2 linked regions of the Homo sapiens genome follow. The protein of the gene in region 2 interacts with the protein of the main gene of each other region in a pairwise test. Each region holds a gene or a part of one and is shown on either strand. Other genes may lie near its edges. The genes, in order: DCDC2 and C5AR2.

Region 1 (7,815 bases), on a different chromosome or scaffold from region 2:
GCCAGGTGTGGTGGCAGATGCCTGTAATCCCAGCTACTCGGGAGGCTCAGGTGCTTGAACCCAGGAGGCAGAGGTTGCAGTAAGCCAAGATCATGCCACTGCACCCAGCCTGGGCGACAAGAGCAAGACTTCATCTCAAAAAATAATAATAATAATAATAATAATAATAATAAAGATCAATTGGTCTATTTGCCTACCAACCCAAGATTGTTGCTTATAGCCCACAGTGCTTTATATCATCCCATTTGAAAAAGTAACGCTAGTAGAAAGCACAATTTAGATTTTACACCAGAAACATAGTACCCTGTTTCTAATTCATGCTCCCAGATCACTATATCCTTGTGTCATTATCTCTTCCAAATACTGTTACATTATCTCTCTGTTTACACTTCTGATCTGTGGAAAATACCAAAATCATATTAAGAAAAAACACATCTATTTTCTATAGTATTATTAAGTGCTTTATATAACTGCCAACTCTTTATTCCAAATGAAACCTGGAAGAGAAAAAATGTTTTAAACTTGTAATTGTGAATTTTAGAAAAGCACTAGAAGTTAAAATTTCAAGCTTACAACTTCCACATAATTAAAAATATATCCTTTAAGAAAAATATATTATTTCTATATTTATGGAAGAACATCTCTTAAGAATTCATAAAAAGGACGAAATTATGTTTTAATTATGTTTTTATGTTTTCCCCATACATACCTCACAAGGCAACTATAAATCAATTTAGTCAGTCCATGAAGTTGTGATTCAGGAATTGGTTTCATTATAATAACTTCTAAAGTTTTACAATTTCTATCAGATGCCTTCTAATTACAAAGAAATCTGCTTGAAATTCTAACTATATCATGCTAGGAAAAATAAATATTTGCTGATATCCCTAGGGCAAAAACATAGTAAAACAGTCTTAATAGAAATAAGGCAAAAAACAAGTTAAATTGAGCAGTCACAAACTCTTCATATAGTCTACTTTTTTCTTCCTAATACACTTTTATTTTTGTTGAAAACTATTTGAAAATAATTTAATCTTTGGAATAGCCAATATCAGGTTCTCTAATAACATAAGGGAGAAGAGAGAGATACTATTGGTAAAGATAGACTGGATCAGTGAAAATCCACAGGATTTCCATTATCTGCAAACCATACATCCAGGCTTTATAATATAACTGGGTGCTCCTTTACAATTCCTTCCTGAGTGTGCGCCATTGGAGCCACAAGCATGCAAGCCTGAAAGCATTTAAGTGACGGCATGGCGATACTAGTCACTAACACTCTGAACCAATGCTTCCTCCCACCAAAATGAACGCCTTGCTCTGTCTTTGTAGTTCAAAGGTGGATTTTGGCTAAGGAGGAAGAAAGAAAGGCATGTTAACAAGTCATGGACACATTTTGATCTACTGCCATCTCCAAATTATGTCTGAAAGTAAATCGCAATCTGTTCATTCAAGAGTTTATTGCTTTAAGAAAATAGTACATGCTTTCCTATTACCAGTTCTTTAAAATTCTACGCCTTCCTAGAGAAAAATTATTTAGAATAAACTGCCTTCTAAACTTATAATAAAGCGTACAATAAGAGTGATCCTATTTTTCATCCTTTACAAGTGGCAATTGTCTTCCAGTGCAAATTCTCCTCTGTCCGTCTTATTTAATATTTCTATATGACTTTTAAAACACATGCAATAAAAGTAAGTAATTATCCTTTAGTAGCCATTTAAAGTTATCTGGTCTTTCCACTAGGCTTCTAATGTTATAATTCGTAGGTAGTATTCGACCATAGTGTCACATTATATTCAGCAATAACTATGTGCTTATCTTTCAAGTATGATAACCCTTCATTTTTCTTGCGATCCATATACTCTCTTTTTAAAAATGTTCTAAGCCACGGCAGCATAGTCCTTGTTTTGTTGGTTGTTTTCATTTTCTTCTGGACTGGTAATTTTTACTTCTGGCCTTGGTGGTCTTTGAGGGTCTACATCAGCCTAGAAGAAAATAGATCAAAACAAAGGTATTCAGCTGTTTGGTTCACAAAGGTAATGACATTTATAAAGAAAAAATTACTCAAGATTCTATTTAATTATATAAATATTTAACTAAAAAGAGTTCCTGGGGTTCCCTTTGTTTTTTTGTCTATCATTACCCAGTGGACATACTGTTTTCTCAACACTTGTACAAAAGTCCTTTTGGGGTTCATAATCTACTAGTGCTTGAAAGGCCCTGACTCATTTTGTATGCTGCAGGCTTTATTTTTCTCATTTTTTCTTGATTTCTCTTTGAGCTTTTCTTCAATTTAGTTATACTTTTCAGTTTAGCATTTTCAGAGACAAAGGAAGAAAAAATTCAGGGACATTCTCCTAATTTTAGTTTCCTCCTAGAATTCACAAATTCGTTGTGAATATGGTACCAAGTACCATCAAGTAGCAAGTAGATAAGAAAAAGACAGAAAATCAAAATGTGGAGGCAGCATTTCTCCAACAACAACTATTGCTCCTGCCACTTGGGTTTTTCCTGTTAATAATGACATTGTCTCATGTACAACTCACCTTTCCCCGACTACACTGAAAACTGAGTGGGTGAGATTAGAACCAGCAGGTTTGCAAAGTCTGCTCTATGAAATCCTAGAGGCTCCACAGCCCCCACAAGGGCACCCAGTCTGGGGGACAGAGTAGCTCCAGGTTCCCCAAACCACACAGGCCATGACTGATGCTTTGAAGAAATTATATATATATATGACTGGTGCCGTGTCTTATTTCACACTGTTCCTTTGTGAAATGTCTCAAATGGTATCTTGAATATAGTACAAGTTCAATCTCAATAAATGTCAATTGTTTCTTGTAAATTCTCTGTATTTCCTGGTATTTTCCTACAATCATATCTCGCTTTGTACAAGAATTGTTACATGGAACAAAATGTTACACGGTGAACAGAATTTCTAGTCATTTTATTAGTAGACAGTCCTTCTGTAAAAGTTAACTATTCATTTTTAACTTACAATTCACATAAATTTGGTTTCTCATATATTTCGGTATGCTTAAAATATACCTATACTAATATGTTAGGGAGAACAAGATAAAATATATCATTGTTATAAGTAAGAGATGAGTCAAATAAGATTAAATCTCTTTGTGAGTAACTGCTCTGTTACTAATCCCTAATTAGGCCGGGCATGGTGGCACGTGGCTGTAATCTCATCACTTTGAGAGGTCAAGGCAAGAGGATCGCTTGAGTCCAGGAGTTAAAAACCAGCCTGTGCAACACAGGGAGGGAGACTTCCTCCATATTAAAAAATATGTATATATGGCCTGGCATGGTGGCACCTGTGGGCCCAGCTATCACAGGAGGATGAAGTGGGAGGATCACTTGAGCCCGGGAGGTCAAAGCTGCAGTGAGCTGTGATCACGCCACTGAACTCCAGCCTGGGTAGCAGAGTGAGACCTTGTCACAAAAAAAAAGTCCCTAATTAGATGTTGTCTCAAAAAAAAAAATCACAAACTAGGCACTTCCTTATTTGAATTCCCAAGAATTTAGATTCACTCTCATTACATACCACAGGTCAATGCCAAATTACATAACCTTGATCTTGACGGATGCCCAATTCCTATCAAAAGCCTATTTTTCCCCTTTAAAAAAATATTCATTTGTCATAATTGGCAAATAAAAATTGTATGTTTATAGCATACAAAATGATGTTTTGAAATATGTATCCATTGTGAAATGGCTTGAGTTAATTAACATACACCTTACCTCACATACTTATCTTTTGTGGTGAGAACCCTTCAAATCTGCTCTGTTAGTGATTTTCAAGTATACAATACATTGTTATTATACGTTAGACACCTTACTGTACAATAGATCTCTTGAACTTATTCCTCCTTTCTCGCAGAAATTTTGTATCATTTGACCAACATCTCTCCAACCCTGTACTCAGTCCCTGGTAACCACCATTCTACCTTCTACTTCTATGAGTTTAACTGTTTTTAGATTACACATATAAGTGAGATCATATGGTATGTGTCTTTCTTTGGTTGGCTAATTTCACTTAACATAATGTCCTCCAGGTTTATTCATGTCATTGCAAATTACAGGATTATTTTTTAAAGTTATATTTATGGAAGATGGAAGGACAGGCAATCCATTCATTTCTGTAAAATCTATTTATGTGATATGTTGAATTAAGCTAGACCACTGGAAAAAAATCATGTTGGATCTTACTATCTAGTCCCACACAGAATTACACTTTGATTTCATTTTGTAAGCTTTCATCAAAAGCTACTACAACAAAGAGTTGTATGAAACCTACTATTACAGGTGCCATATAAATGACGCTGAGGACTATGTAGAACTAATATGGGGAATTTCTTATAGAATAGGACTATGATTATCTCACCTTGAGAAAAGATAAGAGACATGCTGAGCATTTTCATTTAGATGTTAAGAACATTTTGAATAACTCATATAGTGGATTGCAGATAACTTCGTACTGTTACTGAAACCTGGCCACCAGAACATTTTGCATTTTGCCACCGCTAAACTTGCTTTCCCTAAGCAAGATAAATCAGATGCATCAATAATAAATAATCAAGTAGACCTCAGTGATCATAGTGGGTATTAGGAATGAGTAGTCCAAGGCCCACTTCAGCAGTTACAGCCTTGAGGGAGGTGGACCTTGAACTGACGGATAGACAGGAAGGGATGGGATAAGCAGATGGTGAGAATGTTATGGAGAACATCCTGCCTCTTATGCTGTGAGACTCAACTTGAGCCTGGCAGCAACAGGATCATATTGTCCCGTGGAAGAATGCCAGGACTGATGAGTATCCAACTCCAGGATCAGACATAGAAGAACAGGCTAGGAAAAGAGAGATTTCACCAGATATTACTTTTTCTGTTCTCTTATTTTCACCACATATTTCTTTATCCTCTCTGTATAATAAATAGAACTGTATACTACCCAAGTGCCTAATGTGTTGAATGCTTAATTTGATTAATCTATTTAAAGTAGAAAAAAGCAAACTAACTTCAGTACTTCTAGAGATCAAAGAAATCACTCATAATAGAGAAAGTATTCCTTATTTCATGTCTAGGTCTCACTGGTCTTGATATTCTTTTTTGGTTTCTACCTTCTCTGGTCTTAACTTATTCTTACTTTTTTATATTTCTTTCTTGGATTATGTATGTTCTTAGAAGGCTCTGTACATTTTCTTGTAAAATTAGGCAGGAGGTAAGTAGATGGATGGGTCAATGGCTAAATGTATGAATGGCAGAAGGGCAGACACAAACTGTCAGGTCAATGGCAGTATTGTTAAATGGTTGAAATAACTAGTAAGTAAAGGGATTAAATGGTATTGGATCTTTCCTACTCAACCACAAGTGGTTTCAATACAAGTCCTAAACACTTGATTAATTCTCTGAATGCACGCATGTACACACACACATATTCATGCATTCACATAAGCAAGCAAAAGCAATAGAAATACCTCATCTTGTCCACTGCCAGCTCCTTGAGACTTTCTTTCCTTGTCTAGGACCAGTTGAAGCTCATTATTAACCTGCTGCAGCTCCTCACCATTCTCCTCATCGGTGCCTCCATTTACACGAGCAGGGCGTGCCTGCTGCTCACTGTGATCCAGAATCTCCTCGACTTGCTCAGGGGCATCTGTAGCCTCCCTACCTCCTTCCTCTTCAAGGTCACCATTCATTCCTGAAAAGTCTTCTTTCTGTTCTGCATCCTTGTTTGCCTTCTCTCCATCTTCTTCCTCGTCTACTATTTCTGCTGGCCTCTGATGGATCAAAAGGAATAATGGATAAAAGTAAGAAGCATAACAGAACATTTCCACTGCACATCATAGTAATGTAATACTTATATTACAGTCAAGTAAAACATTCTTACATTTGCATAGTACTTTACAGTATAGAACGCACTTACGTTTACTGAGTACCTACCACATGCCACATGTTACAAGCATTCCCTCATTTAATCCTCACAACAATCCTTTGAAATTGTTATCATTCCCATTTTGCAGATGAGAAAACTAAACAGGTGGAGCCCAAGATCCCACAGAAAGAGCCAGAGTTTGAACTAGGCCTGTGACTCCAGAACCAGTGCTTGTAACCCCCATGGCAGATAGAAAGCCAAACCGCAAGGTCCTTGGCCACTGTCTAGTGAAGCACCTGGCCCAGAGGAAGAGGTTTAAAAAAAAAAAGTCTTTGTGGAAAGATTGTCATCCTCAAGGCTAAGGATGAGGGCAATGGCACCAGGCTGTGAATTCATGTTTTCTGACGTGGAATGTAGACAGCTTTCCCCACAATGCCTAAGGAAGCTGACAGCTTCTCTCTAAACACAATAACTGATTTTCCTGCAGATCTAAGGTCAAGAAACTATATGTCCTCTCTGTAAGAATAATAAATGCTGAGGGCCAGGCACAGTGGTCACACTTGTAATCCTAGCACTTTGGGAGGCCGAGGCGGGCAGATCATGAGGTCAGGAGATCGAGACCATCCTGGCTAACATGGTGAAACCCCATCTCTACTAAAAATACAAAAAAATTAGCTGGGCATGGTGGTGCACACCTGTAGTCCCAGCTACTCGGGAGGCTGAGGCAGGAGAATGGCGTGAACCCAGGAGGCAGAGCTTGCAGTGAGCCGAGATCGCGCCACTGCACTCCAGCCTGGGTGACAGAGCAAGACACCATCTCAAAAAAAAAAAAAAAAAAAAAAAAAAAAAGAATAAATACTAAAGTATTTCATAAACCTTAATCAAGCATTTCACTGTTCTACTGTTATTTTGATACACATAAATCTGCTTCAAGAGGGAACAGGAGGCCAGGCACGGTGGCTTATGCCTGTAATCCCAGCACTTTGGGAGGCCGAGGCGGGCAGATCACGAGGTCAGGAGATTGAGACCATCCTGGCTAACACGGTGAAACCCCATCTCTACTAAAAATACAAAAAATTAGCCAGGCGTGGTGGTGGGCACCTGTGGTCCCAGCTACTCAGGAGGCTGAGGCAGGAGAATTGCATGAACCCGGGAGGCAGAGCTTGCAGTGAGCCCAGATAGTGCTACTGTACTCCAGCCTGGGCGACAGAGCAAGACTCCATCTCAAAAAAAAAAAAAAAAAACAAGGGGTGGGGGAGGGAACAGGAGGCCAGCTTTCAGAGCCAAGACTTTGGAGAAAAACCCAGGTTCAAGTCCTGACCAGGCACTTACTGGCTGTTACCTAACTTTGGTGAGTTTCAGATTCCCCATTTGTAAAATGGGAACGTAACAAAACTTCCATGAAGATTAAAGAAAAGTTATATAAAGTGTCATAGTTTCTGGCACATCACAGATCCTAAAAAACATGGAAATCCCTTCCCATTTGTTACAATACATTCTCTCCTGGAGCCACCATATTTCTTCAATGCTATCAATAAAATAACACGGTTTTTTTGTTGTTTTTTGGTTTTTTTTGAGACAGAGTCTTGCTCTGTCGCCCTGGCTGGAGTGCAGTGGTGCGATCTCTGCTCACTGCAAGCCCCGCTTCCCCGGTTCATGCCATTCTCCTGCCTCAGCCCCCCGAGTAGCTGGGACTACAGGCGCCCGCCACCACGCCCGGCTAAATTTTTTGTGTGTTTTTTAGTGGAGACGGGGTTTCACCATGTTAGCCAGGATGGTCTCGATCTCCTGACCTTGTGATCCACCTGCCTCAGCCTCCCAAAGTGCTGGGATTACAGGCATGAGCCACCATGCCCGGCCCAGGGTTTTTTTTAATGATAGGGTAGAATGATTTATTTGGTGTTAAGATCTCATTATTGCCTCTTTCTAGCTACCT
Region 2 (7,691 bases):
TCCGCCCACCTCGGCCTCCCAAAGTGCTGGGATTACAGGCGTGAGTCAACATGCCCAGCCCAATCCAGGAAACTTTCTGTGCATATAATTTGCCCAGCTGTAAGCCCAAAGCAATGGTATCGTAGATGGCATTTCCTTTGTAACGTCTTAACCAGAAATGGGAGCTTTCAACATACGTTGTTCCATTTCTTCATCTTTTCCACTTAACGTGCCCGATATCTGTTTTCCTGTCTATCTGTACAGATATCAACCCCATTCGTCCTCAAAGCATCAAAAACAGTCCACTGTCTGCCCAAGTGGTGCTTATTAACTAAAGGCCATTCAATAACAATGGTAAGGAGAATAATGAGAAACAGGGCCAGGTGCAGAAGCTCACACCTGTAATCCCAACGCTTTGGGAGTCCTAGGCAGACGGATCACTTGAGGTCAGGAGTTTGAGACCAGCCTGGCCAACATGATAAAATCTCATCTCTGCTAAAGATTTAAAAAAAAAAAAAAATTAGCTGGGCGTGGGGGCGAGTGCCTGTAATCTCAGCTACTCAGAAGGCCGAGGCAGGAGAATCCCTTGAAGCTGGGAGGTGGAGGTTGCAGTCAGCTGAGATCACACCACTGCACTCCAGCATGGGTGACAGAGTGAGACTCCATCTCAAAAAAAAAAAAATTGGATTTGGCTTAGATGATTTTGTCTTGCTGTTGGGTAATGTAAATGTTCTGAACACATTTGAGGTAGGCTACGCCCGTGAGGTCAAGGCTGCAGTGAGCCAAGATCGCGCCACTGCACTCCAGCCTGGACAACAGAGTGAGACCCTGTCTCAAAAAAAAAAAGTAGGCTATGATGTTCAGTAAGCTAGGTGTATTAAATCCAATTTGATTTACAATATTTTCAACTTATGTTGAAAATGTTGGGGGCTTTTGTTTTGTGTTTTCGTCTTGTTCAGTCACCCAAGCTGAGTTCAGTGGTTCAACCTCGGCTCACCACAGCCTCTACCTCCTAGGCTCAACTGATCCTCCTGCCTCAGCCTCTGGAGTAGCTGGGACTACGGGTGCACGCCATCATGCCCAGCTAATTTTTTTTTTTTTTTCTGTATGGACAGCCCTTACTCTGTTGCCCAGGCTGATCTCAAACTCCTGGGCTCAAGAAATCCTCCCACCTCAGCCTCCCAAAAGTGCTGCCATTACAGGCGTGAGCCACTGTGCCCAGCCTTACGATGGGTTGATAGAGATGGGACCCCATTGTAAGTCAAAGAGCGTCTGTACTTATATCTAGCTTTTAAATCATAGGTACCCTTCTTATTATTTCATAATAATTAAAATAATAGATGGCTTTTATTGAGCACCTATGACCTACAAGATATAACCCTCAACACAAACCCTTGAGGTCAATATTATCATCCTCATATCCCACAACATCAGCTCCTTCCAGCCTCGGGTGCCGCTGTGTCCCTGGCATCTGGGACAGAACCTGGCACACAGCACAGGCATGGTCGATATTTGGTAAGTGAAAGGATAAAAGAGTAAACTGAGGCACAGAGAGACTAAGTGGTCACTTAGGTTTCTTTTGTTGTGATTGCAAGCACCCTCACATGTGCCTCTTGGTGCACGCCTGTCTGTGCATCCAGTCTTGCTGGGTTCTCTGCTCTGGAAAACCCTGGAGCAGAATCAAAGAAGGCTGGCCGGGCGCAGTGGCTCACACCTGTAATCCCCGGCACTTTGGGAGGCCCAGGCAGGTGGATCACGAGGTCAGGAGATCGAGACCATCCTGGCTAACATGGTGAAACCCCATCTCTACTAAAAAATACAAAAAATTAGCTGGGCGCGGTGGCGGGCGCCTGTAGTCCCAGCTACTCAGGAGGCTGAGGCAGGAGAATGGCGTGAACCCAGGAGGCGGAGGTTGCAGTGAGCCGAGATCGCACCACTGCACTCCAGCCTGAGCAAGACTCCATCTCAAAAAAAAAAAAAAAAAAAAGGAGTCTGAACATTCTTTATTCCTGAACATCCATCTTCTAGGATTCCTCCCTCACGACCCAGCAATCAGCCTCCTTTCCGCAAAAGAACACATATGCTCACCAGAATACATGTGCCAGAATGTTCACAGCAGCCCAAGATGAGAAACCGTCCAAATAGCCACCCACAGCAGAATGGATAAACACATCATGGGGTGTTCACCCTGTGGAATATTCTACACGATGAGAATGAACAAACACCACACAAGAATGTGGACAGATTTTGTGATAGAACATTGAGGGGGCCAGGCACGGTGATTCACGCCTGTAATCCCAGCACTTTGGGAGGCCAAGGTAGGTGGATCACCTGAGGTCAAAAGTTGGAGACCAGCCTGGCCAACATGGTGAAACCCCATCTCTACTAAAAATACAAAAATTAGCTAGGTGTGGTGGCGTGCACCTGTAATCCCAGCTACTCAGCAGGCTGGGGCAGGAGAATCACTTGAACCTGGGAGGCGGAGGTTGCAGTGAGCCAAGATCGCACCACTGCACTCCAGCCTGGGAGACAGAGTGAGACCCTGTCAAAAGAAAGAAAGAGAGAAAAGGAAAGAAAGAGAAAAGAATTGGAATCGCTGAGTTAAAGGGCTTGCTTGCTACACATGCTACAGTTTGGTGGATCTGCCGAAAGCTGCAGGAATTCCTGCAGGTTTGAGAGAGGCTGTTTCCCATACATCTGTGTGTGAAAAACCATTTGGGCAGGGCACAGTGGCTCACGCCTGTAATCCCAGCACTTTGGGAGGCCAAGGCGGACAGATCACCTGAGGTCGGGAGTTCGAGACCAGCCTGACCAACATGGAGAAACCCCATCTCTACTAAAAATACAAAATTAGCCAGGCATGGTGGCATGCGCTTGTAATCCCAGCTGAGACAAGAGAATCCCTTGAACCTGGGAGGTGGAGGTTGCGGTGAGCCAAGATGGCACCATTGCACTCCAGCCTGGGCAACAAGAATGAAAACCTGTCTCCAAAAAGAGAAAGAAAAAAAATGCTTAGATCCTTTGACAAGAGCTTTGCTGCTGGGCTGCCCAAGTTAATTCAAGAGCCCAGGACTGTGACGTGCGTTCCAGTGTGGCTGTAATAAGACTGCACTTCTCAAACTCTAGTTCTGCTTCCCAGATTCTGAAAGTAATGATTCCGAGAAGCCAAGATCATGCAATCTCTCTCTCCCTCCTTCCCGCCCTTGTAGCCTCCATCCTTACCGTCTCTTCCAAGAGTGTCCCCACGTGAGTCAAACGCCACTTGGGAGCCCAATCCGGGCCCACAGCCAGGACCCAGGAGGTCTGGGGTCTCTCCCTGCCGTGTCTGGCAGCTGGTAGAGTCCTGGAAATCCGTCCTGTTTGCCAGGGCTCCTGTCGGATGCTGCTGAGCACTGCCACCTCACCAGTCCCAGTGAATCTTTATAAGCAGTACAAAATAGGAGTGGCCTTGTCTCGCTCTCAGGGTGTGTTTGTCCTGTCTTCTTCCCGTGACTCACAGAACCCAAAATTACGGGGTGGCTGGCAGGGCAGGAGAGGGCTCGGTTGGGTGGAGGGCTGATCCCAAGTCCCCAACCCTAGTCTCGAAGTCCCACCTTCCTGGAAGCCAGACCTGCATGCGGTTTGCTCTTTAACGCCTTAGAGGTCTTGGCCTGGATTCTGTTTGCCCACAACATGCCAGCTGCCCCCAGCCACCTCCAGGCCTCTAACTGTGTTCAACCCCTCCCTTCTGCAGCCTCAGGACAGACAAACATCCCTCCCTCCTCCTCGGCTCTGAGGAAGACAGCCTGGGGTCACATTCTCCACAAAAAGACCACAGCAGCTGAGCGCAGGGCCCAACGCCTCAGTGGTAGAAAAAGCACAAACAACTCCTTTCTTGGGCCTCAATTTTCCATCTGTAGAATGGGAAGATGTTGTTGGCCATAGCGATGCTTTACTTTTTTTAGAGATGGAGTCTTGCTCTGTCGCTCAGACTGGCGTGCAGTGAAAACATTATGCCTCACTGCAGCCTCAAACTCCTAGGCTCAAGTGATCCTCCCACCTCAGCCTCCTGAGTAGCTAGGACTACAGGCATGCACCAACATACCTGGCTAATTTTTTAAAATTTTCTGTAGAGGTGCGGCCTTGCTGTGTTGCCCAGCCTCAAGCCATCCTCACACCTCGACCTCCCAAAGGGCTGGGATTACAGAAGTGAGCCACAGCCGTGATAGCAATTCTTAACCTCTTCCAGCATATCACAGTGGCTGAGAACAAGAACTCAAGGGCCAGAATGATGAGATTCATATTCCAGGTCGACACACCCTCATCAAAGTTCAGGGCCTCAGCCCCTCTGAACCTCAACTTCCTCATCTGTGCAGTGGATGTTTGCTATGAGCGTTGGATACATTTAAAACGCACAGAACTGGCTGGGCGCGGTAGCTCACATCTGTAATCCCAGCACTTTGGGAGGCCGAGGCAGGTGGATCACTTGAAGTCAAGTGTTCAAGACCAGCCTGGCCAACATGGCAGAACACCATCTCTACTAAAAATACAAAAATTAGCTGGGCGTGGTGGTGCGTGCCTGTAATCCCAGCTACTCGGGAGGCCGAGGCAGGAGAATCATTTGAACCGAGGAGGCGGAGGTTCCAGTGAGCCGAGATCTCACCATTGCACTCCAGCCTGGGCGACAGAGTGAGACTCTGTCTCAAAAAAACAAAAACAAAAAAACCGGAGCAGTGCCTGGCACATAGTATACGCTAGGCTCACGCAACAGCAACAAGACTGTAACGTGAATTCTTAAAGTACACATACCACGCAGGCTTAGCAAGAGGAAGTGGCTCCAACCCCAACTTTGGAACCTCTTTATTCAGCAGTTCTTTCTGTTTGTGCTTTTTTTGTGCGTGCTTTAGGGATTCAAGGGATATATTTACACACTTCTTTTGTTATTGTTTTAGAGAATGAAATCACTTTGCTAGAGGAAGTTGTTCGTGAGACAAGGAGCTGGGACTCACTGTTTGACCCAGGGCTTCCTCCACTCTGTTTCCCTGACTAGGTGACCCTGCGTTGGCTGACCCTCACCCCGGACCCTCAGAGAGGAAAACATCCCCCAAGTCCCCTCCCCTCCTCTTCTGTCCCGGGAAGCCCCCTCCTTGGGAGAGGAGGGACATCCTGCCAGCCCCAATCTCCTGTGGGAATCTGCCCTGGCCTGAAGAAGAGATTAAGAGGAAAGAAACCGAGGTGGAACCTTCCCTTTATCAGCTCAAACTTTCTTTTTTTCTTTCTTTTTTTTTTTTTTTTTGAGACGGAGTCTGTCTCTGTTGCCCAGGCTGGAGTGCAGTGGCGCGATCTCGGCTCACTGCAAGCTCCACCTCCCGGGTTCACACCATTCTCCTGCCTCAGCCCCCCCGAGTAGCTGGGACTACAGGCACCCGCCACCACGCCCGGCTAATTTTTTTTGTATTTTTAGTAGAGACGGGGTTTCGCCGTGTTAGCCAGGATGGTCTCGATCTCCTGACCTCATGATCTGCCCACCTCGGCCTCCCAAAGTGCTGGGATTACAGGCATGAGCCACCACGCCCGGGAGCTCAAACTTGCTTTAACTTGAAAAGTTAACGATGGTCTGTTCCTCAGATGCTTCATCTTGATAAACTCCTGATACATCCACTAAGTTTTTCAACATACATTTCTTAGAATTGCAGCCAGGCAGGATGGCTTACACCTCTAATCTCCACACTTTAGGAGGCCGAGGTGTGAGGACTGCTTGAGGCTAGGATTTTGAGACCAGCCTGACCAACATAGTGAGATGCTGTCTCTGGGGGAAAAATATATATTTTTTTAATCCAGGGTCTGACTCTTCACCCAGATTGGAGTGCAGTGGTGTGATCACAGCTCACCGCAGCCTTGACCTCCTGGGTTCAAGCAATCCTCCCACCTCAGCCCCCAAAGTAGTTGGGACTACAGGCTCAAGCCACCACACCCAGCTAATTTTTTAAAAAACTTTTTGTAGAGATGGGGTCTGTCTCTGTTGCCTAGTCTTGCCTCCAATTCCTAGGCTCGAGCAATCCTCCCACACTGGCCTTCCAAAGTGCCGTGATTACGTGTGCTAGCCACAGCATCTGCCCCCCTAGAATTTGTTTTAATTAGCCAGGCGTGTTGGAGCGAGCCTGTAGTCCTGCTACTCTGGAGGCTGAAGTGGGAGGTGGAGGCTGAGGAGGGAGGATCGCTTGAGCCCAAGAGCTCAAGGCTGCAGTGAACTGTGAATGCACCACTGCACTCCAGCCTGAGCAACAGAGAAAGGCCCTGACTCGAAAAAATAATTTAAAATTTTAAAAAAATTGCCAGTCACGGTGGCTCATGCCTGTAATCCCAGCACTTTGGGATGCCAAGGTGGGTGGATCACCTGAGGTCGGGAGTTCAAGACCAGCCTGACCAACATGGAGAAACCCCGTCTCTACTAAAAATACAAAATTAGCCTAGGTGGTGGGCGCCTGTAATCCCAGCTACTCGGGAGGCTAAGGCAGGAGAATCGCTTGAACCTGGGAGGCGGAGGTTGCGGTGAGCCGAGATCGCGCCATTGCACTGTAGCCTGGGCAACAAGAGCGAAACTGCGTCTCAAAAAAAAAAAACCAAAAAAACAAATTTTTAAGTGTCTTAGATTTGAGGCTGGGCGCAGTGGCTTACTTCTGTAATCCCAGCACTTTGGGAAGCCAAGGCCAGTGGATCATTTGAGGTCAGGAGTTCCAGACCCACCTGGCCAACATTGTGAAACCCTGTCTCTACTGAAAATACAAAAAAAAAAAAAAATTAGTCAGGCTTGGTTGGGGAGTACCTGTAATCCCAGCTACTCAGGAGGCTGAGGCAGGAGAATTGTTTGAACCTGGGAGGTGGAGGTTGCAATGAGCCAAGATGGCACCACTGCACTCCAGCCTGGGCGACAGAGCAGGACTCCGTTTCCAAAAAAACAAAAACAAAACAAAAATCTTAGATTTGGGAAGGCAAAGATTTTCTGGTGTCCCTGGAGCTGAGGGCTGTCACTTGGAGGTCTGGGGGTTGCTATGGGCCAAGAACAGGGTCTCTACAGGCCTCGGAAGGCAGGAGGGGGGCCAGTGTGTACGTGCAGGGGATTCTCTCTCAGCCACCCTGTGAAAAGCCGAGCACTACCCCCTCAACTCACCAGCCATTTCCTCCTGGGAGAAATTTTGAATGAGAACATCCTACAAGGATTTTTTTTGCTTCTTTTTTTCTTTTTCTTTCTCTTTTCTTTTTTTTTTTTTTTGAGACAGAGTCTTGCTATGTCGCCCAGGCTCGAGTGCAGTGGTGTGATCTTGGCTCACTATACCCTCTGCCTCCCAGGTTCAAGCAATTCTCCAGCCTCAGCCTCCTAAGTAGCTGGGATTACAGGCACCTGCCACCATACCCAGCTAATTTTTGTATTTTTAGTAGAAACGGGGTTTCACCATGTTGGCCAGGGTTGTCTCAAACTCCTGACCTCAAATAATCCACCTGCTTCAGCCTCCGAAAGTGCTGGGATTACAGGTATTAGCCACCACACCCAACCATCCTAAAAGGTTCTTAAGTCAATCCATATGAAATTATCATTTTTCAGCCGGGCGCGGTGGCTCACGCCTGTAATCCCAGCACTTTGGGAGGCCGAGGCAGGTGGATTACGAGGTCAGGAGATCGAGACCATCCTGGCTAACATGGTGAAACCCCGTCTCCACTAAAAATACAGAAAA

The links.
Region 1: the proteins of C5AR2 (region 2) and DCDC2 interact in binary tests that used the Homo sapiens proteins (3 or more experiments, as listed by UniProt).

What each region holds. Positions count from the first base shown.
Region 1 is NC_000006.12:24,172,849-24,180,663, forward strand, and holds part of DCDC2 (doublecortin domain-containing protein 2), read right to left. Parts: intron 5,785-7,815; coding exon 5,482-5,784; intron 1,987-5,481; coding exon 1,882-1,986; 3' UTR 1-1,881. UniProt on the Homo sapiens protein: Protein that plays a role in the inhibition of canonical Wnt signaling pathway. May be involved in neuronal migration during development of the cerebral neocortex. Involved in the control of ciliogenesis and ciliary length.
Region 2 is NC_000019.10:47,327,860-47,335,550, reverse strand, and holds the start of C5AR2 (C5a anaphylatoxin chemotactic receptor 2), read right to left. Parts: upstream 3,377-7,691; 5' UTR 3,202-3,376; intron 1-3,201.